Regions from separate parts of the Homo sapiens genome. Here all the other regions are linked to region 3. The links come from fine-mapping of genetic effects on gene expression. A gene starts in region 3. Each other region holds a variant in brackets. All regions are shown on one strand. Distances are between the middles of the regions.

What was found. PIP is the estimated chance that this variant, and not a neighbour inherited with it, causes the effect.
Region 1: its variant is fine-mapped to the expression of NEMP1 in blood mononuclear cells (TOPMed, PIP above 0.99).
Region 2: its variant is fine-mapped to the expression of NEMP1 in ovary (GTEx, PIP above 0.99). The same link has a PIP of 0.9 or more in CD4 T cells and hippocampus.

Annotation. Positions count from the first base shown.
Region 1 is chr12:57,111,297-57,121,475 of GRCh38, reverse strand. STAT6 (signal transducer and activator of transcription 6) reads left to right here and starts at 10,114. Exons shown (of 22, transcript NM_003153.5): 1 at 10,114-10,179. LOC124902946 (a long non-coding RNA gene) reads right to left here. Exons shown (of 2, transcript XR_007063334.1): 1 at 9,635-10,179; 2 at 8,597-9,519. RefSeq lists enhancers at 2,338-2,527, 9,095-10,040, 10,041-10,179 and a silencer at 8,896-9,055. The variant G/A (reference allele first, on the strand shown) is at 4,938.
Region 2 is chr12:56,984,079-56,994,257 of GRCh38, reverse strand. It overlaps LOC124902945 (a long non-coding RNA gene), which reads left to right. Exons shown (of 4, transcript XR_007063333.1): 2 at 704-869. It also overlaps the pseudogene LOC390332. Among named protein-coding and RNA genes, the nearest start is that of ACKR5, 5.3 kb to the left of the region's middle. RefSeq lists a cis regulatory region at 2,290-3,104. The variant C/T (reference allele first, on the strand shown) is at 3,916.
Region 3 is chr12:57,074,154-57,084,332 of GRCh38, reverse strand. It overlaps NEMP1 (nuclear envelope integral membrane protein 1), which reads left to right and starts at 5,542. Exons shown (of 9, transcript NM_001130963.2): 1 at 5,542-5,714. The coding sequence starts at 5,588. RefSeq lists enhancers at 5,568-5,617, 5,738-5,987.

The DNA of each region.
Region 1 (10,179 bases), 37 kb before region 3:
TATGGAGTAATCCCAGCACTTTGGGAGGCTGACATAGAAGAACTGCTTGAGGCCAGGAGTTTGAGACCAGCCTGGCCAACAAAGCTAGACTCTGTCACTACAAAAAATTTAAAAAATTAGCCGAGTGTGATGGTGTGCACCTGTAGTCCCAGCTACTCCAGAGGCTGAGAAGAGAGGATTGCTTGAGCCCAGGAGTTAGAGGCTGCAGTGAGTTGATTGTGCCACTGCACTCCAGCCTGAGTGACAGTGAGACCCTGACTCAAAAAAAAAAGACATTATTATGAAAATGTGGAAGTAAGCCAAATAGATAGACAAAACATTGATCTGAGAAGGGACAGAGGAATGCGAGATATATTAAAAATTCCTATAACATAGTAATAAAATGACAACCCAATGAATGGACAATAAGCATATGAAAGGTACTCGAGGCTAGGTGCAGTGGTGCACGCCTGTAATCCCAGCACTTTGGGAGGCCAAGGTGGGAGGATCGCTTGAGGTCAGCAGTTTCAGACCAGCCTAGGCAATATATCGAGACCTCATCTCTACAAAAAGTCCGGGCGTGGTGACTCACGCCTGTAATCCCAGCACCTTGGAAGGCCGAGGCGGGCGGATCACGAGGTCAGGAGTTCAAGACCAGCCTGGCCAATGTGGCCATACCCTGTCTCTACTAAAAATACAAAAATTAGCTGAGCATGGTGGTGGGCACCTGTAATCCCAGCTACTTGGGAGGTTGAGGCAGGAGAATCACTTGAACCCAGGAGGCAGAGGTTGCAGTGAGCTGAGATTGTGCCATTGCACTCCAGCCTGGGCAACAAGAGCAAGACTCCATCTCAAAATAAATAAATAAATAAAATTTAAAAATGATCTAGATATGGAGGTGCATTCCTGCAGTCCTAGCTACTCAAAAGGCTGAGGCAGGAGGATTGCTTGAGCCTAGAAGGTTGAGGCTGCAGTGAGCAGTGATTGTGCCACTGTGCTCCAGCCTGGGCAACAGAGTGAGACCCTGTCTCAAAAATAAAAAGAAAAAAGAAAAAGAAAAGAACTCAACATCTTTAGTTATTAAGAAAATGCAAATTATGCCAGGCACGGTGGCTCACGCCTGTAATCCCAGCACTTTGGGAGGACGAGGCAGGAGGATCACAAGGTCAAGAGATCTAGACCATCCTGGCTAACATGGTGAAACCCTGTCTCTACTAAAAATACAAAAAATTAGCTGGGCGTGGTGGCGGGCGCCTGTGGTCCCAGCTACTCGGGAGGCTGAGGCAGAAGAATGGCATGAACCCAGGAGGTGGAGCTTGCGGTGAGCCGAGATCGTGCCACTGCACTCCAGCCTGGGTGACAGAGCAAGACTCCGTCTCAAAAAAAAAAAAAAAAAAAAGGAAATTATATCCATAGTGTGATACCTCTCAATACTCACCAAAATGATTAAACTTTAAAAAACTGACAATACCAAATGTTAGTGGGAATACAGAGCAACTGGAACTCTCATACATCATTAGTGGGAATGTAAAATGTACTATCAATTTGGAACAATATGTAGCAGTTTCTTATAAAACTACACATACACCTACCCTGTGACTCAGCAATTCTATTCCTAGTTATTTATCCAAGAGAAATGAAAGCATATGTTCACACACAGACTTGAACACAGAATATTCATAGCAGTTTTCTTCACAGTAGCCAAAAGCTGGCTATAGCTCAGGTATCCTTCATTTGAAAAAGGATAAACAAACTGTGGTATAGATCCACCATGGGACACTACTCAGCAAGAAAAATGAAAGAACTATGGATACATGCAGCAACATGGATGAACCTCAAAACATGTTGCGTAAAATAAGCCAGACATAAAACTACATCCTATATTACTCTACTTAAAAAAAAAAATCAGAACAGTGGCTTCCCCTGTGGGTTGGGGTGAGGGTAATGATCCACATCTTGATAGAAGTTTGGGTATTACAAAGCAACCACCTGGTAGGGCAGAGATTTGAACACAGGTGGTCTGCCAGCGGCCAAGGTTTTAATCACCATACTACATAGCCTTGCCCAGGCTGTGGAGCCTCAGATGTGGATGAGATCACACAGAAAGAGTGTCCCGTGAAGACAGGAGACTGAGAGGGAGGACGCAGAGAGGTAGGCCGAAGACCAAGAAAGGAATCATGAAAAGTAGTTGGGGGAGAACTTACTCAAGAATGGCTAACAGTGTTGAGTACTGCTGAAAGGCCCAGCAAGAGAAAGACAGGAATGTGCCATCATTCAAGGCCCCTAGGAGGGTGTATGTGACATGGGCCAGGACAGTTTCATGACTGGTGGGGGCAGCAGCCAGCTGGCAGTGTAATGAGGAAGTAAGGAAGAGAAGACTGAATATGAATAATTTTCCCAAGATGCTTGGCTGCACAGGGGAAGGGAGAGAGGCAAGACAGTAATTAGAGAACTGAGATTTCCTTGCAGAGGCACAATCCTGACCACAGCTGACTCCATCCAGAGCTGCTTGACTTTGCCCATTCACCAGGATGGCTAACTTGTCCTTCTGTGAAGTAAAGGTCGGTTGGCCACAGTAAGCCTCTGACAGCCTGAGGGCTCCATTTGAAGCCTTGAGATCAGCTGACTCCACCATTGCTCACATCCTGTCATCCTTGGCAGGCCTTGATTGGCATCCATCCTTCTCCACTAAGTCCAGTCCTTCCTCCTCCTAACACTGTTATACTGCTCTCCACCCATCTCCTTGCTTGAAGCCTGGGGCCACCCCTGGCTCACATTATCCTGGCCCCTCTTGGCTTGTCTGGAACCTGATCCTTCCTTGAGAACATTCCTCCTTTAATGAGGTATCGCTTATTCTCTCAAGTGTATAGGGCGGGTGGTAGTGGGAGGATGGGCAGGCAGCCCACCCTGGAGTCTCCATTTCCTGTGGCGATATAGCTTCACCATGGTCTTAGTTAGGGATGCATTTAGCAGCAAGTAATGGAAGACCCAATTAAAGCAGGCTCAACAATGAGGAGTTTTATAGCAGGTCCAGGGCTGGTTGATTCATCAAAGGTTTTCCACCTCTTCACACTCATACTTTATCCTCATTGGTTGGTGGTATCTCCCCTCCCAGTTGCAACGTGGTTGCAGCTATTCCAATCCTAAAAGTGAACATGGCACTGAAGAAGAACAAAATCTTTCCCAGAAGCCCCCTAAGTCCTATTGGCCAGGATTGGGTCACTGGCCAAGGGAATAGAAATACTGTGATTGGCTATGCCAATTAGATTCACCCCGTGAATACATAGGAGGGGGACACCTGTGTGAAATCCAGACTTTGCTAGCAAGGGAGAAAAGCTTGGCTGCTGAATAGGCACCACCAGTGCTTGCCTCAGTAGTCACATCAAATTCCTCTTCCTTTAAGAGCCAACTATTTCACCTTCCATTGGGATGTGCAACATAGGGCTTAAGGGCAACATTTCTGGTGCCAAACTAACTGGATTTGAATCCCAGCTCTCTCACCTTAGCCTTGAGCAAGTTGCTGAGTTTTCCATGCCAGTTTCCTCATTTGTAAAATGAGGGTTATCAGCACTATCCAATAGAATTTTCTGTGATGATGGAAATGCCCCGTGTCTGTTTTAATATAGTAGCCACAAGTCATACATGGCTATTGCACATTTGAAATGTGGCTGATACATCAGAGGCATTGAATTTTAAAATTGAAATAGCCACAAGTGGTTAGTAGCTACTGTAGTGGGCACATAGTTCTAGCTCATAGTATTATTGTAGGATAAAAAGTACAGTGCTTCAATTTTAGAGTAAGAATTGAAGTAACACATAAAGCCCCACTAAGTGTTAGTTATTATTTTTGCTGTTATCCACTGATGTCCTGGTCACTTTATCCGTGAAGTCTTTGTTTATTTTATTTTATTTTAATTTTTTTGAGACAGGCTCTCACTCTGTTGCCCAGGCTGGAGTGCAGTGGTGCAATTATGGCTCACTGCAGCCTTGACATCCTGGGCTCAGGGATCCTCCCACCTCAGCCTCCCCAGTGGCTGGAACTATAGGCATGCACCACCACACCAGGCTAATTTTTGTATTTTTTCGAGAGACGGCATTTCACCATGTTGCCCAGGCTGGTCTCAAACTCCTGGCCTCAAGCAGTCTGCCCACCTCAGCCTCCCAGAGTGCTGGGATTACAGGCATGAGCCACCACGCCTGGCCTTCTGTGAAGACTTTAGCAGCTGACTGTCTTCCTGTCCACCTCAAGTTTTCCACAAACCCAGATGGTTTCAGTGCTCCGGCAGGTAGTCCAGCCAACACCCTGGCCTCTTGGTTCCTTGTTCTCTTTGACTCCAATGACTTACCTCTGTGTTGCTGTAGCCACTCACTCTCATAGCCACCACCTTTATCACACCCTTGCAGGAGAGCTGGACTGAAATCTCACTCCCTAGATTCTGACCGCAACATCCTAGCCTTACAGCTCTTCTTTCCCTTGCCCCCGGGAAGCCTGGTCTTTAAGTCTGTTGAGACTTCCAGTTTCTTGCCTTTCTTTCCTTTGACACTGGCCCCTCATGTCTTCACTTTTCTTCCTAACCAGTCTCCATTCCACAATGCTTCACCTCTGCTCTTCAACTGTGTCGTCTCCCTCTCTGTTGTTATTAACCTTCTGAATGGATCTCCTGGCTTCAGAACTTATCTTTTAAATCCATCCTCCACATTGCAGCTAGGCTGATCCCTCTACTAAATCTTATCATATGACTCACCTGTCTAAATCTTCTAATGCTCCGCATTGCCCATTACTACCCATTCCCAGAAGGTACCATGCTCCCACAGGTATCCATGCCTTTGCATATGCTAGACCTTCTTCCTGCTTTAATGCTTTCCTTGTTCTTTGCCTGAATAATTCTTATGTCCCTTCAAGATTCATTTCAGGCTGGGCACGGTGGCTCACGCCTGTAATCCCGAAACTTTGGGAG[G/A]TCGAGGCAGGAAGATCACTTGAGTTCAGGAGTTTGAGAGCCTGGACAACATATTGAGACCCTGTTCTATGAGAGAGAGAGAGAGAGGAGAGAGAGAGAGAGGAGAGAGAGAAGGATTCGAACATGCTTTATGCTGAAAGTATAGAGCTGTCATAACTACAGAGCAGGAGGGTGGAGATTTGAAGAATGAAGGGGATAATAAATTGAACAAGTGCCTGAAGAGGCAGAAGGGAGGGGCCTTGAGCACAGGTGTTTTCTAATTAAATGATGAGTTGGTATGAAGATGGATGGAAACTTGAGGAGAATAGTGAAGGCCTGGGAGATAGAGCTGGCTAGGGGCCCTCAGCAGCTTCCCACAATTCTTTTGTGACCTCCTCCTCCTTTCCCTCATCCTCCACAAATCACAGTCCACTATTCAGTGTTCTTGAACTGTCTTGTCTGTGAAATGTACTGAGCTCCAGCAATCAATCCATCAATCAGTTTAGTCCTTACGTAGGAGAGTATGTATAAAACATTTAGCCCAGCACCAAGTACATGGGAGACACTCAGTTAATTGCAGCCCTTCATATCTTTACCACCAAGAATGCATGTTGTTTTTTCTAGCTGCTGCACAGCAGTGTGTACAGTATGATATGAGTCCTTGCCCTCCTTGAACTTGTGTTATTGTTGAGGAAGAAAGATGTACCCACAAAATAATTAAAAAGCAATACAAAGGAATATGTAGTGGCCACCAGTACCCAAATTGTGCTTCTGTTATTATTATTATTATTATTATTTTTGAGACAAACCCTCACTCTGTTGCTGGAGTGCAGTGGTGTGATCCTGGCTCACTGTAACCTCCACCTCCTGGGTTTAAGCAATTCTCGTGCCTCAGCCTCCCAAGTAGCTGGGACTACAGGGCAGTGCCACCACACCTGGCTAATTTTTGTATTTTTAGAGACGGGGTTTCACCATGTTGGCCAAGCTGATCTCGAACTCCTTACCTCAGGTGATCTGCCCACCTTGGCCTCCCAAAGTGCTGGGATTACAGGCGTGAGCCACCATGCATGGCTGTGCTTTTTTTTTTTTTCCCCACAACCAGCACTAAAAAGTATGTTTTATCATGACTTAGAATTCAGATACATATAGGGCCGGGAGTGGTGGCTCATGGCTGTAATCCCAGCACTTTGGGAGGCTGAGGTGGGTGGATCACCTGAGGCCAAGAGTTTGAGAGCAGCCTGACCAATATGGTGTCTCTACTAAAAATACAAAAATTAGCTGGGTGTCATGGCATGTGCCTGTAGTCCCAGCTACTGGGGAAGCTGAGACAGGAGAATTGCTTGAACCCAGGAGGCAGAAGTTGCAGTGAGCCGAGATCCCGCCACTGTACTCCAGCCTGGGCGACAGAGGGAGACTCCATCTCAAATAAAAAAAAAAAAAAAAGAATTCAGATACATATATAAAGCTGAAACAAAAGTTTAATTAAACAATACTTATCCTTACTTCGCTTGATGCCTTCTGATATTTTCTGTACTGTTCTATTCTACTTCAGTTTTATTTTTTAATTTTATTCACTTTATTTTTTATTTTTTGAGATGGAGTCTCACTCTGTTGCCCAGGCTGGAGTGCAGGGGTGTAATCTCAGCTCACTGCAGCCTCTGCCTCCCGGATTCCAGTGATTTTCCTGCTTCAGCTTCCCAGGTAGCTGGGATTGCAGGCACATGCCACTGTGCCCAGATAATTTTTTGTATTTTTTAGTAGAGACGGGGCTTCACCATGTTGGCCAGGCTGGTCTTGAACTCCTAACCTCAGATGATCCGCACACCTCGGCCTCCCAAAGTGCTAGGATTACAGGCATGAGCCTCTGCGCCTGGCCTTTACTTCAGTTTCAAAGAGTGAAGGTCAAGACACTGTTTTTTTTTATGTTTTGTTTTTAATTTTGTTTTAAATTTTTTTTGTAGAGATGGGATCTTGCTATGTTGCCCAGGCTGGTCTCGAACTCCTGGCCTCCAGCAATCCTCCTGCCTCAGCCTCCCAGAGTATTGGGATTACAGGTGTGAGCCATTGTGCTTGATCAAGATGCTGTTATGGGCTGAGTTGTGTTCCTCAAAAATTCTCTTGAAGTCCTAATCTCAAGTACTTCAGGACGTGACCTTATTTTGAAGGACCCCCTTATAGGGTCTTTACAGAGGTAATTAAGTTAAAATGAGGCCATTAGGATGGGGCCTAATGCAATATGACTGGTATCCTTGAAAAAAGGGGAAACTTGGAGACTGACTTGCATACAAAGAGAACAGTGTGTGAACGTGAAAATGGCCAAGGAGGGAGGCCTGGAATAGAGCCTTCCTTCACATCCCTGAGAAGGAATCAATCAATCCTGCTCAGGTTAACCTTGATCTTGGACTTCTAGCCTCCAGCATCTTGAGAGATTTCTGTTGTTTAAGTCATGCAATATGTAGTACTTTGTTACAGCAGCCCTAGCAAACTGATACACTCACCAAATCGATTTTGTGACTCACTATTGGGTTGTAACCAGCAGTACATAGACATAAAGTTATTTTTTCCTTACGCTTTATCTTGTGCAATCGTGTGTGTGTGTGTGTGTGTGTGTGTGTGTGTGTGTGTGTGTGTGACGGAGTCTTGTTCTGTCACCAGGCTGGAGTGCAGTGGCTTGATCTCGGCTCACTATAATCTCTGCCTTCCAGATTCAAGTGATTTCCCTGCCTCAGCCTCCTGAGTAGCTGGGACTACAGGCGCGCACCACCACGCCCGACTAATTTTTTGTATTTTTAGTAGAGACGGGGTTTCACCATGTTGGCCAGGATGGTCTCAATCTCCTGACCTTGTGATCTGCCTGCCTCAGCCTCCCAAAGTGCTGGGATTACAGGCGTGAGCCTCTCTTGTGCAATCTTTACCACCACTCAATGGGATGTCAAGGTCCAGGGGAGGGTGATACAGTCACCCTCACAGTCATGCAGGTGCAGATGTCATTAATGAAGGTCTGACAGACCCTGCAATTGTACAATCTGAAGATGAGTATCTCCTTAAATTTCATACTCTAGGCACTTTACCCTAGCCTAGACTCTGTTGAAGTAGGTATAACTATTATTCTCATTTGAGGGATTGACACCTGATTGTGAACCTCCTAAATGGAGTCATACCCAAGCCAGATTTGCCTCTAAATTCTGTTTTTTCCCCTTACATCACAGTGTTCCCATTGGTATAGTCAGTTACAGAGGGAGTAATATATACTATTTTTCTACCAGTACTTGCTCCTCGCCTTCCTACCCCCTAAAAGGAGCCAAAGTCAGAGATCACATTTACTCTTTTCCCTCCTCCTCTCCAAGTCTTTGGGGACTTGTAGCTCTGACACCCTTAGATGGTGAAACCTGGCTTCACCTACTGTCTGTGGATGTCTGCAGGCAGAGTGGGCACTCGGGAGCACATACAAAGCACGTGTGCCGTGAACACGTATGTGCACACACCTTGATCCTAGCATGGCTTGTTGGACAAGCCAATGGACAGAGTCCCTGCCTGCCACCTCCACCCCTGCTCTCCCTTCTCTTCCATTCACTGTCCTGCAGACACAGCAAACACATACGCACATACACCCTCAATATCCTTTTGGCAGTAACATGACCCCCAAATCTGGGGACTTCTATGTAGGATGGAGACCCTTCTCCTTTCCTCATACCTGGTTTATTATGAACCATAAAAATAGTGCCTGACAGTTACTGTGTGTCAGGCATTGTTCTAAGCCTTCAGATGTTTTACTGCATTTTATTCTCACATTATGGGTTAAGACTTATTTGCTCCATTTTACAGATGACGAGAATGAATCACAGAGTAAATTGCTCAGGGTTGTGTGGTTAGCAGCATTAGCAGGATTTGAACCCAAGCAGCCTGTATCCACAGTCCAGTCTTTTAACTGCTATATTTTGCTGTGTTCAAACCCTCTGCTGCCTGGCTGGGTCCACACACGTGCACTCATGTACAGACCTGCGGGGTAGCAAGGGATGGAGGAGGAGGAGCTGGTTCTGGAAATCAATTCAGGCACCAGGGGGCAGCATAGGCCTAGCTTTGGCCCCTCAGCCCAGCCCCTGCTATGGGAGGGAGGAGGGGAGTAGAAACTTCCTCCCACCGCCCCTCAGACACCACCTCTTCCACACACCGGGGCTCTCAGGTGTCCGGGAGTAAAGGCCTCTCTGGATCCCTTGGTCTCCTCCAGCTCCTCCCCCAGCAAAAACTGCAGAACCCTCCACTAGTTATGTTGATGACTCAGAAGTTGAGCAAGACTGTGTGTGTGTGTGTGTGTGTGTGTGTGTGTGTGTGTGTGTGGTGTTGTGATTGCAATGGGCTCTGTTTGTGAGCCTGCCTGCACGTGTGTGTGTGTGTGTGTGTGTGTGTGTGTGTAGTCTTGTGGTCAGGGAAGTTGTGCATGTGTGTGTTTGTTTCTTGGCGTGTCTCAGTGTTTACCCCAGAAACATATAGGAACTTGGCAGATAGGAACACAGCAGATTCGTATTCAAACTTGCCCCTTGTGAATCTGCAGGCAGCAGCTCCGGCTTGTGCTGGTTCCCACCACAGTCTCAGGAGGGGTGCCCTGTGAGGAGAGAGCAAAGACCAGCTTCAGTCCAAGGGACTCCTAGAGTCTTCCAGAATTCTGAGCTGAGGGTTCCCCTCCCCCACTCCCTCCCGTCAGTGGTCACGAGACCGACCTCTAAGGCGTTCCCTGCCGGAAGGGAGGGGGACCTAGGAGTTGGCTGGCATCGAGCTCCCTGGCGGCTTTTTAGGGTCCTCCACTGGAGGGAGCGCAGAGTCCAGAGGGATTTACTTTTCCTGAGGCCCTGGGGAGCCCAGTCCCTTGTGGGTCCAAACCCCAGCCCTTGGCAGAGTTTGAGTTTGGGAGCCAGGCAGTTAGGGGTGGCAAATCTCTGTTTGATATTGGGTGACTTTCTGGAGAAAAGCTGATGCTTTTGAGGGGGACAGAGTAAGTGGGGGTCAGCCTCCCCCCAAGCCTGGCTCCAAGGCCTGGACCCCAGTCCTGATCCCCCACGTGTTCCCCCACTCGGCACAGGAGGCACACATATTCACCCCACTTTCTTCCTCTTCCTCCTCCAGCCCACTTTCTCTTCTCTGTGTCGTCAGAGCTCCAGGGAGGGACCTGGGTAGAAGGAGAAGCCGGAAACAGCGGGCTGGGGCAGCCACTGCTTACACTGAAGAGGGAGGACGGGAGAGGAGTGTGTGTGTGTGTGTGTGTGTG
Region 2 (10,179 bases), 90 kb after region 3:
CTGTTGAGGGAGGGAAAGTGCTTAGCTCAGGTGGGGCCTGTGGCAAATGCTTTACGTATGTATGTATTTTCCTCTCCCTAAGTCAGCTTGGAATCCCTCTCTCCCCTGTCTTGATTCCTACTAGAGTGAAATTGGATGTGGGGGTATAGGGGAGGGTCAAAATAAATCTGAACATCAGTTGGGCTTTTAATAACTCTGGCCCACCCCTGCCATTCTCCCCAGCCCCTCACAGGGCTGTGAGCTCCCTGCCTTCATCTTGTGATTGGAGGTGAGAATCTGGGAAAGAAAAGATTGAATGGCTGGGCATGGTGGCTCACGCCTGTAATTCCAGCATTTTGAGAGGCTGAGGCAGGAGAATCGCTTGAGCCCAGGAGGCGGAGGTTGCAGTGAGCTGAGATCAGGTCACTGCACTCCAGCCTAGGTGACAGAGTTAATAAAAAAAAATAAAAATAAGATTGAATGCGGGGTGTCAAGGGGGCTTTGTCAAAGCTTCAGGGAGATTCCTGAGTAGGGAGGGAGAGAGAGAATGGCGCCCTCCCCCTGTGGCTCTATACTTCTCTGCGTGAAGGGTGTGGTGGGTGGCTGGCAGGGGATGAGCAGGGGATGGGGCGTGGGGTAGGGAGAGCAGACTTCTCTCTCCCGCCAAGCTAGAGGGTAAGGGACTCTAAGCCACGTGTTATGGGTAAACATTTTGTGTCAGCAGAGCTTCCTGCCCTTCAGAGCGCTTTCACCTCACTTCATCTCGTTGGATTCTGGAGATACCCCTGTGGGGAGGATGGATTTCTTCACCCTCTTTGAGGCCCAGAGAAGTTGTCTGTTACACAAGCCACACTTGGCAGATGGCAGAGTGGCCTAGGCCTGAGCCAAAGGTGTGTCGGCTGGACGGGATTGAGTATATATTAAGTCGAGGTGAAATTCCCATAGCATAAAATTAACCATTTTAAAATGTGTGATTTAATGGCATTTAGACATGCACATTGTGCAAACACCACCTCTGTCTACGTGCTAAACATCTTCATTACCCGCAAAGAAAACCCCATAACCATTAAGCAGTCAATCCTATTCCCCCCACCACCAACCTTCTGCTTCCTGTCCCTGTGGATTTACCTATTCTGGATACTTAATAGAAAGGGAACCATATCATATGTGACATTCAGTGTCTGTGTTTTTTTTTTTCCACTTAGCATGTTTTCAAGGTTCATTCACTTTGGAGCATGCATCCGTACTTCATTTCCTTTCATGGCTGAGTAATATTCCCATATATATATATATATATATACACACACACACACCACATTTTCTTTATCCACTCAAAGAGAACATTTTTTAAAAGTTTGCTCACTGATTCTTTTATTATGGTAAAATATATGTAAGGTTTACCACGTTAACCATTTTTAAGTGTACAATTCAGTGGCGCTAAGTGCATTTACACTGCTGTGCAACCATCAGCACCATTTATCTCCATGGAAGGGAATATTTTTCATTTTGTAGTTTTGTAGTTTTCTTAAACCTTCCACTTACATATCAGATCACTCCAAGATCACAAAATCTATCATGGCCGGTGCAGTAGCTCACACCAGTAATCCCAGCATTTTGGGAGGCCGAAGTGGGAAGACTGCTTGAGCCCAGGAGTTTGAGACCAGCCTGGGCAACAAGATGAGACCCCCATCTCTACAAAAAATAAAATAGCCAGTTGTGGTGGTACAGTCTGTATTTGGGAGGCCGAGGTGGGAGGATCGCTTGAGACTAGGAATTCAAGGCTGCAGTGAGCCATGATCACCCTGCTGCACTGAAGCCTGGGTGATGGGATCTAGAGAGCTAGATCCCATCTCCTAAAAAAAAAAAAAAAAAAAAAAAATAATGGGCTAGGCTAGGTGGCTCATGCTTGTAATCTTGGCACTTTGGGAGGCTGAGACAGGTGTATCACCTGAGGTCAGGAATTCGAGACCAGCCTGGCCAACATGGTAAAACCTTGTCTCTACTAAAAATGCAAAAATTCCAGGCGTGGTGGTGCATGCCTGTAATCCCAGCTACACAGTAGGCTTAGGCAGGAGAATCTCTTGAACCCAGGAGGCGGAGGTTGCAGTGAGCTGAGATCACGCCACTGCACTCCAGCCTGGGCCGTGGAGTGAGACTCTGTCTCAAAAAAACAAAACAAAACAAAAACAAAAAACCATCATGATGAACCATGACAGTGTGAAATGTGGCTTACTTCGATTTTTCAGTTAGTTTTGCTCTTATTCTCTCCCTTTAGGGTCTTAGTTTCTATCCCATTGATATTTTTCTTCAGTAAGGAGCCTTCTGAGAATTTCCCCTTCCCACTACATGCTTTTGACCCATGCAAATGAAGCCTGTCCTAGATCAAGCACCCTCCAAGGAAGGCCCTGGTCTGGTCTTTGTCCTCTCCAGATGGCCACATCTGTGACCACTTCCGTTCCTCACAAGACTGCCCTTTAGTGGCTCCTGTCTCCTGGGTCTCTGAATTGTCCTTCCCATATGGAGACATCCCCCCTGCAGCCTCACCTCTACCTGCTGCCTTCTCCCACCTATTCCTGTCACCCAATGTGTATTTGTAGAAAGAGGAAGTGATGGTGGTTCCTTCTGGCAGAGGCTCAGAGGGAAAGCTCCTCCCTCAGGAAGAAATAAGTGATAGCTCTGCAGTTTTCATGTGGGGCTTTTTAGGGGGTGGGGTGCAGCTGGAAAGAGAGAGACTGGGAGGAAGAGAAAGAGGGAGGAGCAGGAGGCCAGGCTCCTCGCCAACCTGGGCAAAAGGAGCAGGCCAGCAGCTTTGCCCTATGCAGCAGAAACAGCAGCAGTGAAACAATTCCTGGAAATTTACTCTTTTTCCTCCCCGCCCCACTTTTTTTCCCCAAAAAAGTGTAGACAAGATTTTGCGATCAACAATCAGAAAGGAAGGAAGGTACCAGGGAGGAGGTATTGGGAGGCAGAGATAAAGGCAGACGACTTTCCAGGGTCAGGTTAGGCAAAGGGCTGTGCTTGGACCCTGGCAGAAGGGGTGAGGCAGGCTGTCCCAGGGATCAACCCACGTGCCTGGCTTATGGGGTGGAGGCAGGTGCTTTGTGGACAGGTTAAGGCTGAGGGATTTGGCAGTAATTGCACTCGCGTCCACAGTGTGAACTTCCAGAAGGCCACTGAGTCAGGAAGCCAAGTCTAGTCGTGGAGGTTGTTCTGCCCTCCTGCCACCAGCTTCCCCAAGCTAGAGAGGAATCTGGTTTGCCCAGAAGTACCAGATTAGGAGCTTTCCAGGCTCCTCAAAGCCTGTGCCCCACTACCCTGTCCTTGGCTCTCTCTGCTCAGTTCTTCCCTCTTCACCGGCCCTTCACGAGACACTGTGGAGATAACACCAGTTTTTGAGTCAGACCTGTTTTTGACACTTTTTTCCACCACTTGGTAGCTGTGTGATCTTGGGCAGGTCACTTAACCTTTCTGAATCTCAGTTTCTTTTCTTTTGTTTTTTGTTTTTAAATATTTATTTGTACAGATTGATGTGGTACATGTGCAGTTTTGTTACATGAATAGGTTGCATGTTGGTCAAGCCAGGGCTTTTAGGGTATCCACCACAAGCATAACATGCATTGTACCCATTGACTAATTTCTCATCATCCACTCCTCTCCCATTCCCTCTTCCTTCCAAGTTTTCACTGTTTACCATTTCACTCTCCACATCCATGTGTACACATCTTTTAGCACTCACATTATGAGTGAGAACATGCAATATTTGATTTTCTGTGCCTCGATTGTTTTACTTAAAATAATGATCTCCAGTTCCATCCACATTGCTGCAAAAGACATAATTTCATTCCTTTTTATGGCCAAATAGTATTCCATTGTGTATATATACCACATTTTCTTTATCCTTTTATTCGTTGATGGACACTTAGGTTGATTCCATGT[C/T]TTTGCTATTGTGAATAGGGCTGTGATAAACATACTAGTGCAGGTGTCTTTTTAATGTACTGATTTCTTCCCCTTTGAGTAAATACCCAGTAGTGGGATTGCTGGGTCGAATGGCAGTTCTACTTTTAGTTTTTTGAAAAATCTGCATACTGTTTTCCATAGAAGTTGTACTAGTTCACATTCCCACCAGCAATGTCTAAGAGTTCTCTGTGCTCCACATTCTTGCCAACATCTGTTTTTTTTTTTATCTTTTTAATAATAGCCATTCTGACTGGGGTACGATGATATCGCGTCATGGTTTTTATTTGCATTCCTCTGATGATTAGTGATGTTGAGCATTTTTTCATATATCTGTTGGCCATTTGAAAAATGTCTTTTGAAAAATGTCTTCTTTTGAAAAATGTCTATTCATGTCATTTGCCCACATTTTAGTGGGATTATTTGTGGGGTTTTTTTTTTTCTTGCTCGAGTTCTTTGTATATTTTGGATATCTCCCCTGTCAGATGAATAGTTTACAAATATTTTCTCCAGTTCTGCGGGTTGTTCATTCTGTTGCTTATTTCTTTTGTTGTGCAGAGCTTTTTAGTTTAGTTAAGTCCCAGTTGTTTATTTTTGTTTTTGTTGCCTGTGCTTCTGAGATCTTAGTCATAAATTCTTTGCCTAGTCCAATGTCCAGGAGACTTTTCCTTATACTAGATAGTAGATTTTTCCTGCAATACTAGATTTTCTTCTAATAATTTAATAATAGTTTTGGGTCTTATATGTAAGTCTTTAATCCATCTTGAGTTGATTTTTGTGTCTGGTGAGAGATAGGAGTTTAATGTCAGTTTCTTAATATGTAAAGTGAGGATAATGATGCTTCCCTTACAGGTTATTATATGGGATACATGAGATAATATATACAAGCATGCTCCTTTTCCACTTCATGGGGATAAGGAAAAAGGAATCCCATCTTGTGGAATTGACACTGAGAGACCTCTCTAGTCCTATTACCACCAGCCATTTTTTTCCTCTCTGAATTAGATCAACATGAGCCTCCTCTTTTATTTGGCTGTCTTGGGTTGTGTTTTTTACATAGAAGGGTGGGAACATTCCCAAATGTCACTATGAATTACCACAGAGAAATGTAGTAATAGTAACAGCTGATGTTTATTGAATACGCACCATTGGCTAGACACAGTTGTAAGGGGCTTTATCCATATCACCTCATTTAATCCTCATAACAACTTCATGGAGTGGGTACTACCATCGACAAGGAAACTGAAGCACAGAAACTTTAAATAACTTGCCCCAGTCACACAGCTAGTAGGTCAATAAGCCCATATTACAAGGATTCTTGAGCTGGATTCCATGCAGCTAATGGTTTTAGGTGTGAACTGTATGAAAAGTATAAGCAAGTTTTTGATTGTTGTGTTATGTGGGGGGCTTATAACCTTCCTTAGATTCTCGAAGGGGCCCATGATGTCCAAAAGCTTTAAAAAAAAATGACCCTTGGAGAGCTTCTGCTAGACTGGGGTCAGGATAAAAACAGCAATGTTGGGTATCCACTTGTGTGGAGCTGACTCAGCCCTGGGAATTCTAGGAAATTTCTTGCATGAGGAAGGAGGTGTCTCCTTCATGAAGGCTGAGGGATTTGTAGGATGATCTCGGAGGGATTTGAAAAGGGGAAAGTGAATGTCTTTGCTTCCCATTCCCTATCTTTCACTAGATGAAGGACAACTGTTTCCTCTGTGATTTCCCAAGTGTGAGAAGGGAGGGTGTGACATCAGTCTAAGGAAGAGGAAGCTTGAAAAGACTGATAAGAGACTGGAAGGGCCCCAGGTACTATTAATATCCCTCTGCCGCCTACAGCACTAGCAGCCTCCCCGCATGCCGCCACCCTTCCCCCTTCCTTTGGTCTCCTATCTCTCCCAGCTTCTGTTTCTCCCTCACTCTCCCATCTCCTGATCTGCACCCCTCCCCCAGCCTCTCTGTAGATGTGGTAAGTCTCTTGTTGGTTCCAGATTTCTTCCGTTTCTGTTAACTTTTGTTGAGCACCTAATGTATGCTGGTCAGAAATTCTCCAGTGCTTCCCAAGACCCCATCTTTCTAAGTTTTCACCATTTTAATAAAGGCATATGGATTCTTAGACTCCCTGAAATTGGAGATGGGAGGACTTGACAAAGTCATCTTGATTCTCCTCCCTCGTTATAAAGATGAGAAAAATGGAGGCTTTAGGAAATCTCATATTGTCGCATGATGTAAGAAATAGTGATGAAAATGGAAAGCGAAGCCAGATGTTGCAGTGTCAGCTACCTCAACATTCCTTCATCTCTGCTAGAAGCTAGCACTGCCGGGGCTGGAAATACAAAAATGACTGGACTCAGTCTCGGAGCCCTCAAGGGGCTCCGAGTCTGTCAAACCTCTAGTATGCAGCACACTCAAGGCACCATCCATGTTGCTTAATTAACAGTAGTCCAGTCTCTTACCAGCCAGCAGTCTTGCTGTTTCCCTCCTTCTTGGAGGATCCGTGCAGGGAGATATGGGGGCTCCCCGATGCTGGAGAGAGTGGCCATTGGGATGAGCTGAAGAGCCTTGGCTGATCCCAGGCCGATGCCCACGTCGTGACTGCAGGGCTAGAGAAGAACCACCAGGGGGCGCGCGGCTCTTTGCTAGCCTCTGGTTTCTGCAGGAAACCTCTCCTTCCCCCTCCCAGTCCATCTCCACTTCTTCCTTCAATTAGGGGACAGAAATTGGGCAAACATGGACAGTGGGAGAGAGGCCCAGTGCAAATAAACCCTGGATTATTCTGTCCCACACCTACTCCCCCAGCTCCCTGCCCCTCTACATCCTGCCCACCAGTTATGAAATAGTTTCCTCGACCTCACACCGAGGGACCCTCCATGGACAGCAGAGGTCCAGTCTGTACCCCTTTCTGTAGTCTCCTGAGAAGGAGATCCCTCCTGTCCATCAACACCCTGATACAAACTGAAGTAATACCTTTACAGTTACTAGGGTTCATATCCTTCCCTGCTTGGGCAAGGTTTTGGACCACCATCCTCATTGTCCTTGTTCAAATGAGCAATGTTTTTAGCCTCTCAGTGTCTGAGGGGTCCAGATCCTGGATGTGGGCCCTGACAGGGGAGGGCAGAGGGCAGTGGAGCCAGCACCCAGGGCATATCAGGAGGTGAGCAGGTGAGCCCTGTGACACCTGCATAAGTCATTCCATTCCCCTTCCCAGCAGCCCTGGGTACTTCCTTCCTGTGGGTTCCAAGGCTCCATTCCCTTCTTTCCCCTTTCTTTACCTGTGAGGTTGGACTCTCCCTGTGGGTGTTCCACATCTTTCTGCCCCAGAAAACTACTGTAGCAGGAGGGGACTTGCTCTTGTTCACTTTTTTGCCTTCTCCTTCTCATCCTAGAGAGCCTGATCGTGCCCTACTTTTCTGGGGAGTGATTGATTCTGGATGCTGGGTGGGATGAGGAAACTCAGGCTCAGAGCAGGATTTCCACTGAATGTGCCTGGAAACCATGTGTAGCTTCCCAGTAAAGTCTGTTTTCTGGGAGACCATGGTCCAGGAGTGTTGGTATACAATGTGTGTTAGGCCGTTCTTGTGTTGCTATAATAAATACCTGAGACTGGGTAATTTATAAAGAAAACAGGTTTAATTGGCTCATGGTTCTGCAGGCTGTACAAGCATGCATCTGCTTGGCTCCTGGTGAGGCATCAGGAAGCTTATAATCACTGCAGAAGTCAAAGGGGGAGCTGATTTGTCACATGGCAAGTGGGAGCAAGAAAGAGAGAGCTGGGGAGGTGCCACACTTTTAAACAACCAGATCCCATCACAACTCATTCCAGTGTCTCCAGGACAGCACCAAGCCATGAGGGATCCACTACCATGACCCAACACCTCCCACCAGCTCCTGCCTCCAATATTGGGGAACGCATTTCAACATGCAATTTTGGTGGCACAAATATCCAAACCATATCACAAGATATGTAGAGACAAGTTCTGACCCTTGTTTGTAGATCAGAGTGGTGTGTTTCATGGTGTGTGTGTGTGGGCCCCTGTGTGGACACCTGAGTAGGCACAGCAAGGCAGAGAGGCATTGGTGGACTAGGGAAGCATTGCTGAGTAGTGATAACTACTCACTGGGCAGAGCTTGGGGTTTGCAGTTGCATGCATGAACACCTGCAAAGGCAGTTGAAAGAGCAGAGAGATGAAGCCAGGATAAAAAATGGTGCAGAAAGACAGTGATCAGAGAGGAAAGTGAGGACTTTCTGCCAAAATGCCTGAGGGCTTCCCTGCCTACCTCAGCCCTCTGTGTTCTTAAGTCCTCCTGTCTGAACAGAGGCCAGACTCTCACTTCACCCCAGCCCGTCTGGGTCTGTCCTCTGCAAAGCCATGTGGCTCTACCTGGCGGTCCTCCTGGGCCTATACTACCTTCTGCACTGGTACTGGGAGAGGCAGGTGGTGAGTCACCTGAGAGACAAGTACGTGTTCATCATGAGCTGTGACTCACGCTTCAGGAAGCTACTGGCCAGACAACTGAATGCACAGGCTTGCGGGAGCTGCATGTAGGACAGAGAAGGGGACCAAGCAGCTGAGGGGCCAGACTTCAGACAGGCTGGAGACGGTGACCATGGACATCACCAAGACAGAGAGCATTGCTGCAGCTGCCCAGTGGGTGAAGGAGTGTGTGGGGGACAGAGGGACCACCTCAATCCCTCCTAGTGCCTGTTTGTTTCTCTTCTCTCTGTGTCACTAGGGGAGACCTAGTGTCTGCTAACTGGGAACATTTCCAGGACTTTTATTTTCGGGGGCTTGAGCTTTCTGTTTTCCAAAGCAGAAGTCCTAGAGTGGTTGTGGCTGGGCCCAGGGTTAGAGGAGTCCAGGCTGTGGTTAGAGCCCAGTCTCTGGATAACGTTGGGTCCTGACGGTTGGCATGAGACCATCGGGGATGGGGCTGGGCAGGATCCAGGCTTCTGATCTCAGCATTCTCTTACTGGTTCCTTCACACTTGTCCCTGTTGAGGGCTTTAAGATGATCTCCGCTTGATTCACGAGGACACTGGGGCTTGGAGAGCTGAAGGGACTTCACATCAAACACCGAGTGATGAATCCTGTTCCTTTTGGGGAAAGGGAGATCATTGATTGCTTTGTTCTGATTGTAAATGGAAAACATGAAGAAATTATAGAAGAGGATAAGATTGGATAGATAGGAGGATAAGATAGGATTTCTCATTGGAGAAATCATAGAAGAGGATGAGAGTGAAACAACATTCCCCCTAATCCCAGCCTCCAGGGTTAATTTCCCTCTACTTTACACATTCTGGGGTCAGCATTTTCATCATCAAGTTTCTTCCCCAACATAACAATCAAGGTCTCCATATTCCAGCATGTGGAGAGGCCATAATTTGTTAAAGGGATTCTATATTGTTGAATGCCGAAGTTTGTTACCCACTTTTCCTGGCATAAATAACATCTCAGTAGCGATTCTCTACCAAGGTTTGTTGACAGGCTTAGCAGTGCTATTCAAGAAAAGTACAACTATTGAATCAAAGAATCCTCATTCCTTCAAGTCCAGGAAAGGTTTCTGAGTAGGGGAAGGGCCACCATTGCAGGCCTTATTGTTTTTCCAATATTCCTAGGGTCAGTCTCCGTCTCCTGTACCCCCCAGCCCTCACCCACTCACACCCCTGCCCCTGCTGGCCTGGAGTCCGTAGTTCTGTAGCTCTGACTACTCCAGATCTTTCATGCTATTAGTTTGCTCCCCTATGTCTTCTGTAGAGTCTTCCCCAAAGCTTGCTGGACCCTATGGGGATAGGGCAGAGGTGGCCTTATGAGATGGTGGGAGGAAAAGGTGGTACTTCCTGGGGCAGAGAGTGCAGTCTGGACACCTGTGTGGCATGAGACCTCTTTCCCTCCTCCCCTCCTGCTCTGGCCATTCAGTCCACAGTGAGCTTTGGGATTCCCAGGTACACAAGGTGACCTTTTCTTCCAGGACAGATATTGCCTTGACATTGATGCAGGTTGTAGCACAGCTTGTCCCCTGATGCCCAGTGCAGGCCTGCTCTCTAACTTCCCCTAGTCTTAGGATTTAAGTGTATCTCTCCTAAACAGGATGCAGAAAGTAATTACTCATGTGTTTTTCTTATTCTTTCCTTTTTCTTTTTCTCTTCTGTCCTTTCCCCTTGGTTTCTCTGTCTTAGCCCATTCCTGTCTTCCTATTTCCTGTCTCTGTCTCTCTCCCCTGGAGAGATATTTGTTGGACCCTCATTCTGTTT
Region 3 (10,179 bases):
AAATATTCGTGGCCTGCAAATCCTTTATCCACAATTCCTAAATTTAAAAAAATTATGAAAACCAAAAGCTTGACCGGGTACTGTGGTTTATGCCCTTAATCTCAGCACTTTGGGAGGCTGAGGTGGGTGGATCACCTGAGGTCAGGAGTCCAAGACAAGCCGGCCAACATAGCGAAACCCCGTCTCTACTAAAAATACAAAAATTACCTGGGCGTGGTGGCGCATGCCTGTAATCCCAGCTACTCGGGAGGTGGAGGCACGAGAATCGCTTGAACCTGGGAAGCAGAAGTTGCAGTGAGCCGAGATCGCGCCATCGCACTCCAGCCTGGGTGACAGAGTGAGACTCGGTCTCAAAACAAAACAAAACAAAACAAAACAGAAGAAAACAAAAATTAACTGGGCGTGGTGGCGGGCGCCTGTAATCCCAGCTACTCGGGAGGTGGAGGCATGAGAATCGCTTGAACCTGGGAAGCAGAAGTTGCAGCAAGCTGAGATCACGCCATTGCACTCTGGCCTGGGCGATAAAAGCAAAACTCCGTCTCAAAAACAAAAACAAAATCTTTTTCATAACATATTTGACAATAAAACCTAATCTGAACTGAATTTATTTTGTGGCAGAACCTGACCTAAACTTACATAAGGTTATTTATAGTTTTCACTTTTCCATCTTTCACTTACCACAGTATGAAGTCATATGTGTCATTCCAGAAATATTAATTTGTTTGATTACTGGGTGCTGTCCTGATGCATTGGGATTGTTGCTTTATATTTTGTATATGCACCATACTATCTTTCAAAAATCCAAAAAATTTTGAAACACATTAACCATCCAGATTTCCCACCCCATTTACTCATCAGTGTTGGCCTGAGTTCTTTTGGCTATTTGCATAAATCCAATCCACCTGCAGATAATGAATATTCATTGCATTGTGTGTTATAGACTCTGAAGGAGATTCTTGTTGTTTTGAGCAGTGTCCTCATTAAAACAAAGCTAAAAGCTTCTTGAATGACTATCTTGAAATGACAGCACTCATTTGGATGATAAGTTGTAATGTGTTTATGGACAGCCAGTCTCATTACCATACACTTCATTTATATATTTTAATAGTCAGTGGTCAGTGATCTTCTGAAATTAGTTCCCCTGGATTTGCTTTAGTGAAAACCAAAGAGCAAGCTCTGAATGATGAGAATGGGGCCTGATAAAAAAAAATGAAGTATGTGTATATATATGTGTATATATACCTACACATAAAAAAATACATATACATATCTATACATATATATTAGCCTTTATTTTATTTTATTTATTTATTTTGAGACAGGGTCTCACTCTGTCACCTAGGCTGCACAGTGGTGCAATCACAGCTCATTGCAGTCTTGACTTCCCAGGCTCAGGTGATTCTCCCACGTCAACCTCCCAAGTAGCTGGGACCACAGGTGCATGCCACCACACCTGGCTAATTTTTTTTTTTTTTGTATTCTTTGTAGAGACGGGGTTTCACTATGTTGCCCAGGCTGGTCTCAAACTCCTAGGCTCAAGTGATCCACCTGCCTCGGCCTCCCAAGACATTGGGATTACAGGCATGAGCCACTGCACCTGCCCAATTTATTCATTTTTTTAGCAACAAGGTCTTACTCTGTCACCCAGGGTGGAGTGCAGAGGCATGATCATGGCTCACTGCAGGCTCAACCTCCCAGACTCAAGTGATCGTCCCATCTCAGCCTCCTGAGCAGCTGGGACTACAGGCACGTGCCAACACACTTGGCTAATTTTTGTATTTTTGTAAAGACAGAGTCCTACTATGTTGCCCAGGCTGGTCTTGAATTCCTGGGCTCAAGCCATCCTCAGACCCGGTCTCCTAAAGTGCTGGGATCACAGGTGTGAACCACTGAGGCTAGCCAACTTTATTTTTAGAAACATTACATGTACAGAAAAATTGAAAAGATAATATGGTGAATTCCTATATACCCTACATTCAATTTCCTCAATTATTATCTGACATTAGTATGGTACATTTAGCACCATTAATGAAACAGTATTGAAACATTATTATTAACTAAAGTCTACAGTTTATTCAGATTTCCTTTGAGTTTTTGTTGTTGTTGTTGTTGTTTAGACTGAGTCTTACTCTGTCACCGGGCTGGAGTGCAGTGGCACTGATCTTGGCTCACTGCTGCAACCTCCGCCTCCCAGGTTCAAGTGATTCTCCTGCCTCAGCCTCCTGAGTAGCTGGGTTTACAGGTGCCCGCCATACGCCCAGCTAATTTTTGTATTTTTAGTAGAGACGGGGTTTCACTATGGTGGCCAGGCTGGTCTTGAACTCCTGATCTCGTGATTCGCCCGCCTTGGCCTCCCAAAGTGCTGGGATTACAGGCGTGAGCCACCATGCTCAGCCTCCGTGTTTTTTTTTGTTTTCTTATTTTTTGAGACGGAGTCTTGCTCTGTCGCCCAGGCTGGAGTGCAGTGGAGCGATCTCAGCTCACTGCAAGTTCCGCCTCCCAGGTTCACACCACTCTCCTGCCTCAGCCTCCTGAGTAGCTGGGACTACAGGTACCTGCCACCACGCCCGACTAATTTTTTTTATTTTTAGTAGAGACGGGGTTTCACCATGTTAGCCAGGATGGTCTCCATCTCCTGACCTCATGATCCGCCCGCCTCAGCCTCCCAAAGTGCTGGGATTACAGGCATGAGCCACCGTGCCCAGCCTCGTTTTTTTAAACTAATGTGTTTTTCTGTTCCAGGATCCCATCTAGACCACCACATTATGTTTAGTTCTCAAAAACATAATGGGCTGGGCATGGTGGCTCATGCCTGTAATCCCAGCACTTCGGGAGGCCGAGGCGGGCAAATCACCTGAGGTCGGGAGTTCAAGACCAGCTTGACCAACATGGAGAAACCCCATCTCTACTAAAAATATGAAATTAGCTGGGCGGGGTGGCACACACCTGTAATCCCAGCTACTTGGGAGGCTGAGGCAGGAGAATCGCTTGAACCTGGGAGGGGGAGGTTGCGGTGAGCCAAGTTTGTGCCATTGCACTCCAGCCTGCTCAACAAGAGTGAAACTCTGTCTCAAAAAACAAAAACAAAAAAGCCCATAATGATGTTTGGATGACTTTGACAGCTTTGAGGAGTACTGGTCAGGTATTTTGTAGGATGCCTCTATTGGAATTTGTCTAATGTTTTTCTCAAGATTAGAGTGGTGTTATGGGTTTTGGGAAGGAAAACCACAGAGTTAAAATGCCATTTTCATCTCATGTTATCAAGGGTACATAGTATCAACATGATTGATGCTGACTTCCCTAGGTCAGCTGAGGGAGTGTGTGTGTGAAATACAGGATGACCATATCAGCACTGTTGGCCTAGACTTTTCCTTCTGAGAATGAAATCTCTTCTCTTGCCCATAGCTCAGCCCCATTTTGACTTTTTTTTTTTTTTTTTGAGACAAGAGAGGCTCGCTCTGTCACCCAGGCTGGAGTGAAGTGGCATGATCTCGGCTCACTGCAACCTCTGCCTCCTGGGCTCAAGCAATTCTTCTGTCTCAGACTCCTAAGTAGCTGGGATTACAGGAACCTGCCACCATGCTGGGCTAATTTTTGTATTTTTATTAGAGATAGGGTTTTGCTGTGTTGGCCAGGCTGGTCTCGAACTTCTGGCCTCAAGTGATCCTCCCACCTCAACCTCCCAAAAGTGCTGGGATTACAGGCATGAGCCACCATGCCCAGCCCATTTTGACTTTTTTTTTTTTTCTCTTTTGAGACAGAGTCTTGCTCTGTCACCCAGTCTGGAGTGCAATGGGGCGATCTTGGCTCACTGCAGCCTCCGCCTCCTGGGTTCAAGGGATTCTCCTGCCTCAGCCTCCTGAGTAGCTGGGCTTACAGCCACCTACCACCATGCCTGGCTAATTTTTGTATTTTTAGTAGAGACGGGGTTTTGCCATGTTGGCCAGGCTGGTCTCGAACTCCTGACCTCAGTTGATCCACCCGCCTCGGACTCCCAAAGTGTTAGGATTACAGACCTGAGCCACCATGCCCGGCCCATTTTGACTTTTAAAAAGGTCCTTGTTTTAGACCAGGTGCAGTAGCTTACTCCTGTAATTTCAGTAATTTGGGAGGCCAAGGTGGGATAATCACTTGAGGCCAGGAGTTTGAGGTCAGCCTGGGCAACATAGCAAGATATTGTCTCTACAAAAAGTAATTAAAAAAAATTAAGCCAGACATAGTGGCTCATGCCTGTAGTCCCAGCTACTTGGGAGATTGAAGTGGGAGGATCATTTGATCCTGGGAGTTCGAGGCTGCAGTGAGCTGTGGTTACACCACTGCATTCCAGAAGGGTTACAGAAGGAGACCTTGTCTCAATAACAACAACAACAACAACAACAACAATGAAACAAACAAATAGCTGGGCATGGTGGTGCATCCCTGTAGCCCAACCTATCTAGGAAGCTGAGGTGGGAAGATGGTTTAAGTCCAGGAATTCAAGGTTACACTGAGCTGTGATGGTGCTGTTGCACTCCAGCTTGGGTGTCAGAGAATGACCCTGTCTCTAAAAACATTAAAAAAAAAAATTCTTGTTTTGAAAGCTTGAACCTTCCCCAGGAGATGCCCCCTTCCTTGAATTCCTCAATTCATTTGGCTCTATCATCTGTAGTTTTCCTACCCATCACCATCAGATCCTCTTAAAAAAAAAGTTTCAATTTCTACTAACAGTTTCTGAACACCTGGATCTCTGCTGGGCCCTGTGTTAAATCATTGAATGGGAAGCAGCTAATCCATATAAATAACTCCGGCTTTGGAGTCAGTAGGATTTAGGTTGGGATCACAGACCAGATGAACTATGAAATCTTGGGCAGGTTCCTGTGGCTGTCTTGGCTTTGGCTTCTTAAATGGAGAGAATTATATTTGTCTCACAAGATGATAAGAGGAATAAATGAATCTTTCTTAATCCTAACATTAATTTTACTTCCAAAAATAAAAATCCTATGAATACATTTTTAAAAGCTAATGTTTATGCTTATAAAATATTGACACACACTTTTTTGTGACTTCTATTTTAAATCCTTTAGGACTTTGGAGAACCACACTTTTGTCAGTCGACTTTAAAAATCGTCCTATCAGGGTCCTACTCATAAAGCGATCTCAATTGTAGGCGTCTCATAACAGAAAGGTCGTGATAAAAAGTAACCGAAAGAAAACGGAAGGAACTTCAGACAGCTTCTATGGAAATACCGAGTTTGGTCAAGGAGGCCTCTCCCATTCCGATTTTCTATTGGTTAAACTTACCATCAATCACACCAGTTGTAAATAAACTGAAGACGGAAGCATGTTGTTAGCGGGGTGGGATCTTCCTGTCGCCACTGCTAGGGTGAGAACCCATTTTCCAATAGGCTGAAAGCTGCTTTTCCCGCCCTCTCTCTTCAGTTGCTAAGGGGCGGGACTCATAGGGCCCTTGGAGGGCTGGGTGCTCGAAGCCCTGCCCATCCCATTGGTTGATAGGGGCGGGTTTCGTAGAGGATAGGCTGCTGTCGTTGCCCGTTCGGAGTTAGTTGCTGGGGTAAGGCACGTGAGGAGGAGGTGGCTTGAGGCAACCATGGCGGGAGGAATGAAAGTGGCGGTCTCGCCGGCAGTTGGTCCCGGGCCCTGGGGCTCGGGAGTCGGGGGCGGTGGGACAGTGCGGCTACTCTTGATCCTCTCCGGCTGCTTGGTCTACGGCACAGGTACCGCCCGGGCAGCAGCTGCCAAGGGGGCAGGTGCCGAGGGGGTTATTTTTGGAAAAGGGATTGTCCCGAGGGCGCGGGCCGTTACTCTGCAGAAGGGCGGTGGCTCTACCGAGGGCCGCCGGCGTAGTGTGGTGGAAGAAACTTGGCAGGCTAGTGGGCGTCGGGACTGAGGGTCTGGGCCCTGAAGCGGGCTGGGGCAGCTTCCAGAGTGGGGAGGAGCCTGAAGCCTTTTGGCGGAGACAGGAAGGGAGGCCTAGACTGGTTGAGAAGCAGTCCTGGGGGCTGTGTCTCGTTGCAGAAGCCTTGAGTTTCTTGGTTAAAAGCGAGAAAACCTGGGGACCATTCTGGGCAGGCAGAGCAGCCGCGGGAAAGGGACCATCTCATTCATTCGGCAAATCAGCAAACACCATCTGAGCGTATGCTCTGTCAGGACGCAGGGCACGGGTGGCAGAACGGATGTAGTTGACAGAAATGCAGTGATCTCTACTATCTTCTGCTCTTGTAAAACCTTGATTCCTTACCGCCCCCGGCCCGCGAGATGGAGTCTAGCTCTGTCACTCAGGCTGGAGTGCAGTGGTGCGATCTCGCTCACTGCAACCTCCGCCTCCTGGGTTCAAGCAATTCTCCTGCTTCAGCCTCCGGAGTAGCTGGGATTACAGGCACCCGCCACCGCGCCCGGCTAATTTTTGTATTTTTAGTAGAAATGGGGTTTCACTATGTTGGCCAGGGTGGTCTCGAACTCCTGACCTCGTGATCCATCCGCCTTGGCCCTCCCAAAGTGCTGGGATTACAGGTGTGAGCCACCGTGACCGGCCAAATAATGCATGTTTATTTTAGATGATTTGGCAAGGTACAATTAAGTATAAAGAAGCAGGCAGAAACCACACTGTTAATCCATTCAGAAGCAATCTATTTTAGCACACTTTCTTCTGATCTTTTTCCACATATTTTTAATTTTTTATGAATTGATAATTTGTATCCAGTTAGTACTCTAGTTCTCTTCCCTGGAGGCTGCCAGTCGTTACCAGAGATAGTTTTCTCGTTTGATTTTGTAGTACAATAATTTTCCCAAGTAATTTAAAATTCTTTTTTTGTTTTTTTGTTTGTTTGTTTGTTTGAGATGGAGTTTTGCTCTTGTTGCCCAGGCTGGAGTGCAGTGGTGCAATCTCAGCTCACTGCAACCTCCGCCTCCTGGGTTTAAATGATTCTCCTGCCTCAGCCTCCTGAGTAGCTGGGATTACACTTGCCCGCCACCACGCCCGGCTAATTTTTTTTTTTTTTTTTTAAACAGAGTCTCCCTCTTTCGCGCAGGCTGGAGTGCAGTGGCCAGATCTCGGCTCACTGCAAGCTCCGCCTCCCAGGTTCACGCCATTCTCCTGCCTCAGCCTCCCGAGTAGCTGGGACTACAGGCGCCCACCACCACGCCCGGCTAATTTTTTGTATTTTTAGTAGAGAGGGGGTTTCACCGTGTTAGCCAGGATGGTCTTGATCTCCTGACCTCGTGATCCGCCCGCCTCGGCCTCCCAAAGTGCTGGGATTACAGGCATGAGCCTCCACACCCGGCCTTAAAATTCTTTGTAAATGTTGTCTTACTTGTATTACATTCCAATGTATGTGCAGATGTTCATTTAATTTTTTTTCTCCACCCCCCGCCCGCCCCGCCCCGCAGAATGTAGTCTTGCTGTCTGGCCCAGGCTGGAGTGCAGTGGTGCAATCTCGGTTCCTGTTTCAAGCCATTCTCCCATCTCAGCCTCCCAAGTAGCTGGGACTACAGGCATGTGCCACCACACTCGGCTAATTTTTTTTTTTTTGAGACAGAGTTTCGCCCTCGTTGCCTAGGCTGGAGTGCAATGGCACTATCTAGGCTCACTGCAACCTCAGCCTCCAGAGTTCAAGCACTTCTCCCTCTGCCTCCCGAGTAGCTGGGATTATAGGCGCATGCCACCATGCCTGGCTAACTTTTTGTATTTTTTGTACAGACGGGGTTTCACCAGGCTGGCCAGGCTGGTCTCAAACTCCTGACCTCGTGATCTGCCCACCTCAGCCTCCCAAAGTGCTGGGATTACAGGCGTGAGCCACCACGCCCAGCCACACTCAGCTAATTTTGTATTTTTAGTAGAGATGGGGTTTCACCATGTTGGCTAGGTTGGTCTCGAACTCCTGACCTCAGGTGTTCCGCCCGCCTCAGCCTACCAAAGTACTGGGATTACAGGCGTGAGCCACCATGCCTGGCCTTCATTTATTATTTTTTAGTGACGTGGTTTTGCTGTGACACCCAGGCTAGAGTGCAGTGCACAATCATAGCTCACTGTAACTTCCCACCTCGGTCTCCCCAAGTAGCTGGGACTACAGGCACGTGCCATCTGCCTGGTAAAAATCATTATTAATGTTGTGGATTAAACATTTGGTTGGATATTGGTGGTTTGTACTGTTGGTTGGATATTTGTGGTATTTCTAGTTTTTCATTGTTGTAAGTTTGTGAACATCTTTGTGTATACATTTTTATTTATTTATTTATTTATTTTTTTGAGATGGAGTCTTGCTCTGTTGCCCAGGCTGGAGTGCAGTGGTGCCATCTCGGCCACCTAGGTTCAAGCGATTCTCCTACCTCACCCTCCCGAGTAGCTGGGATTACAGGTGTGTGCCACCATGCCCGGGTAATTTTTTTGTATTTTTAGTAGAGTGGGATTTCGCCATGTTGGCCAGGCTGGTCTCAAACTCCTGACCTCAAGTGATCTGCCCGCCTCAGCCTCCCAAAGTGCTGGGATTACAGGTGTGTGCCACCATGCCCGGGTAATTTTTTTGTATTTTTAGTAGAGTGGGATTTCGCCATGTTGGCCAGGCTGGTCTCAAACTCCTGACCTCAAATGATCTGCCCGCCTCAGCCTCCCAAAGTGCTGGGATTACAGGTGTGAGCCACCGTGCCTGGCCTTATTTTTTTTTCTTTTTTTTTTTGTAGAGATGGGGTTTCATCATGTTGGCCAGGCTGGTCTCAAACTCCTGAGGTCAGGCAATCCCCTCACCTTGGCTTCCCAAAGTCCTGGGACTACAGGCGTGAGCCACCACGCCTGGGCCCAACTATTTATTTATTTATTTATTTATTTATTTATTTATTGATATTGAGATGGAGTCTTGCTCTGTCGCCCAGGCCGGAGTGCAGTGGTGTGATCTTGGCTCCCAACTATTTATTTATTTATTTATTTATTTATTTATTTATTTATTTATATTGAAATGGAGTCTTGCTCTGTCGCCCAGGCTGGAGTGCAGTGGTGTGATCTTGGCTCACTGCAAGCTCCACTTCCCGGGTTCATGCCATTCTCCTGCCTCAGCCTCCCAAGTAGCTGGGACTACAGGCGCCCGCCACCGTACCCAGCTAATTTTTTTTGTGCTTTTAGTAGAGATGGGGTTTCACCTTGTTAGCCAGGATGGTTTCAATCTGCTGACCTGGTGATCCACCTGCCTCGGCCTCCCAAAGTGGTGGGATTACAGGTGTGAGCCACGGCGCCCAGCCCCTTATTTATTTTTTTGAGACGTAGTCTTGCTCTGTCACCCAGGCTGGAGTGCAGAGGCGCGATCTCGGCTCACTGCAGTCTCCCCTCCCAGGTTCAAGCGATTCTTCTGCCTCAGCCTCCCAAGAAGCTGCGATTACAGGTGCCCGCCACCATGCCCAGCTGATTTTTTTGTATTTGTAGTAGAGACGGGGTTTCACCATGTTGGCCAGGCTGGTTTTGAACTCCTGACCTCAAGTGATCCGTCTGCCTTGGCCTCCCCAAGTGCTGGGATTTCAGGTGTGAGCCACCATGCCCGGCTGGACAGTGGTCACTTTTAAATCTTGAATTAGCTGATATTAAATACAAATTGAGAGGAGAATCTTCTGTTTTGGTAAATCAGAGGGACTGCATGTAATCATTGCCTGCTGTTAAAATTTGAAGTGACACAAAACAGCTGGAAGGAAACAACCTTGAAATCTTTTAGTATCCTCCAAAAGTACTATATATTAAAAATATTGCTGGCTGGGCGTGGTGGCTTACGCCTGTAATCCCAGCACTTTGGGAGGCTGAGGTGGGTGGATCAGTTGAGGCCAGGAGTTCTAGATCAGTCTGGCCAACATGGTGAAACCCCATCTCTACTACAAAAATACACACACACAAAAAAAGTTAGCCAATTGAGTTGGCTCATGCCTGTAATGCCAGCTACTCAGGAGGCTGAGGTGGGAGAATCGCTGGAACCTGGGAGGCAGAGGTTGCAGTGAGCCAAGATCGCACCACTGTATTCCAGCCTGGGTGACAGAGTGAGACCCTGTCTGAAAAAAAAAAAAAAAAATGCTGGCTGGGCATGGTGGCAGATCTGTAATCCCAGTGCTTTGGGAGGTCAGCGTGGGTGCTTTGGGAGGCCAATGTGGGAGGATTGCTTTAGGCCAGGAGTTCAAGACCAGCCTGGGCAACATAGTAAGACCTTGTCT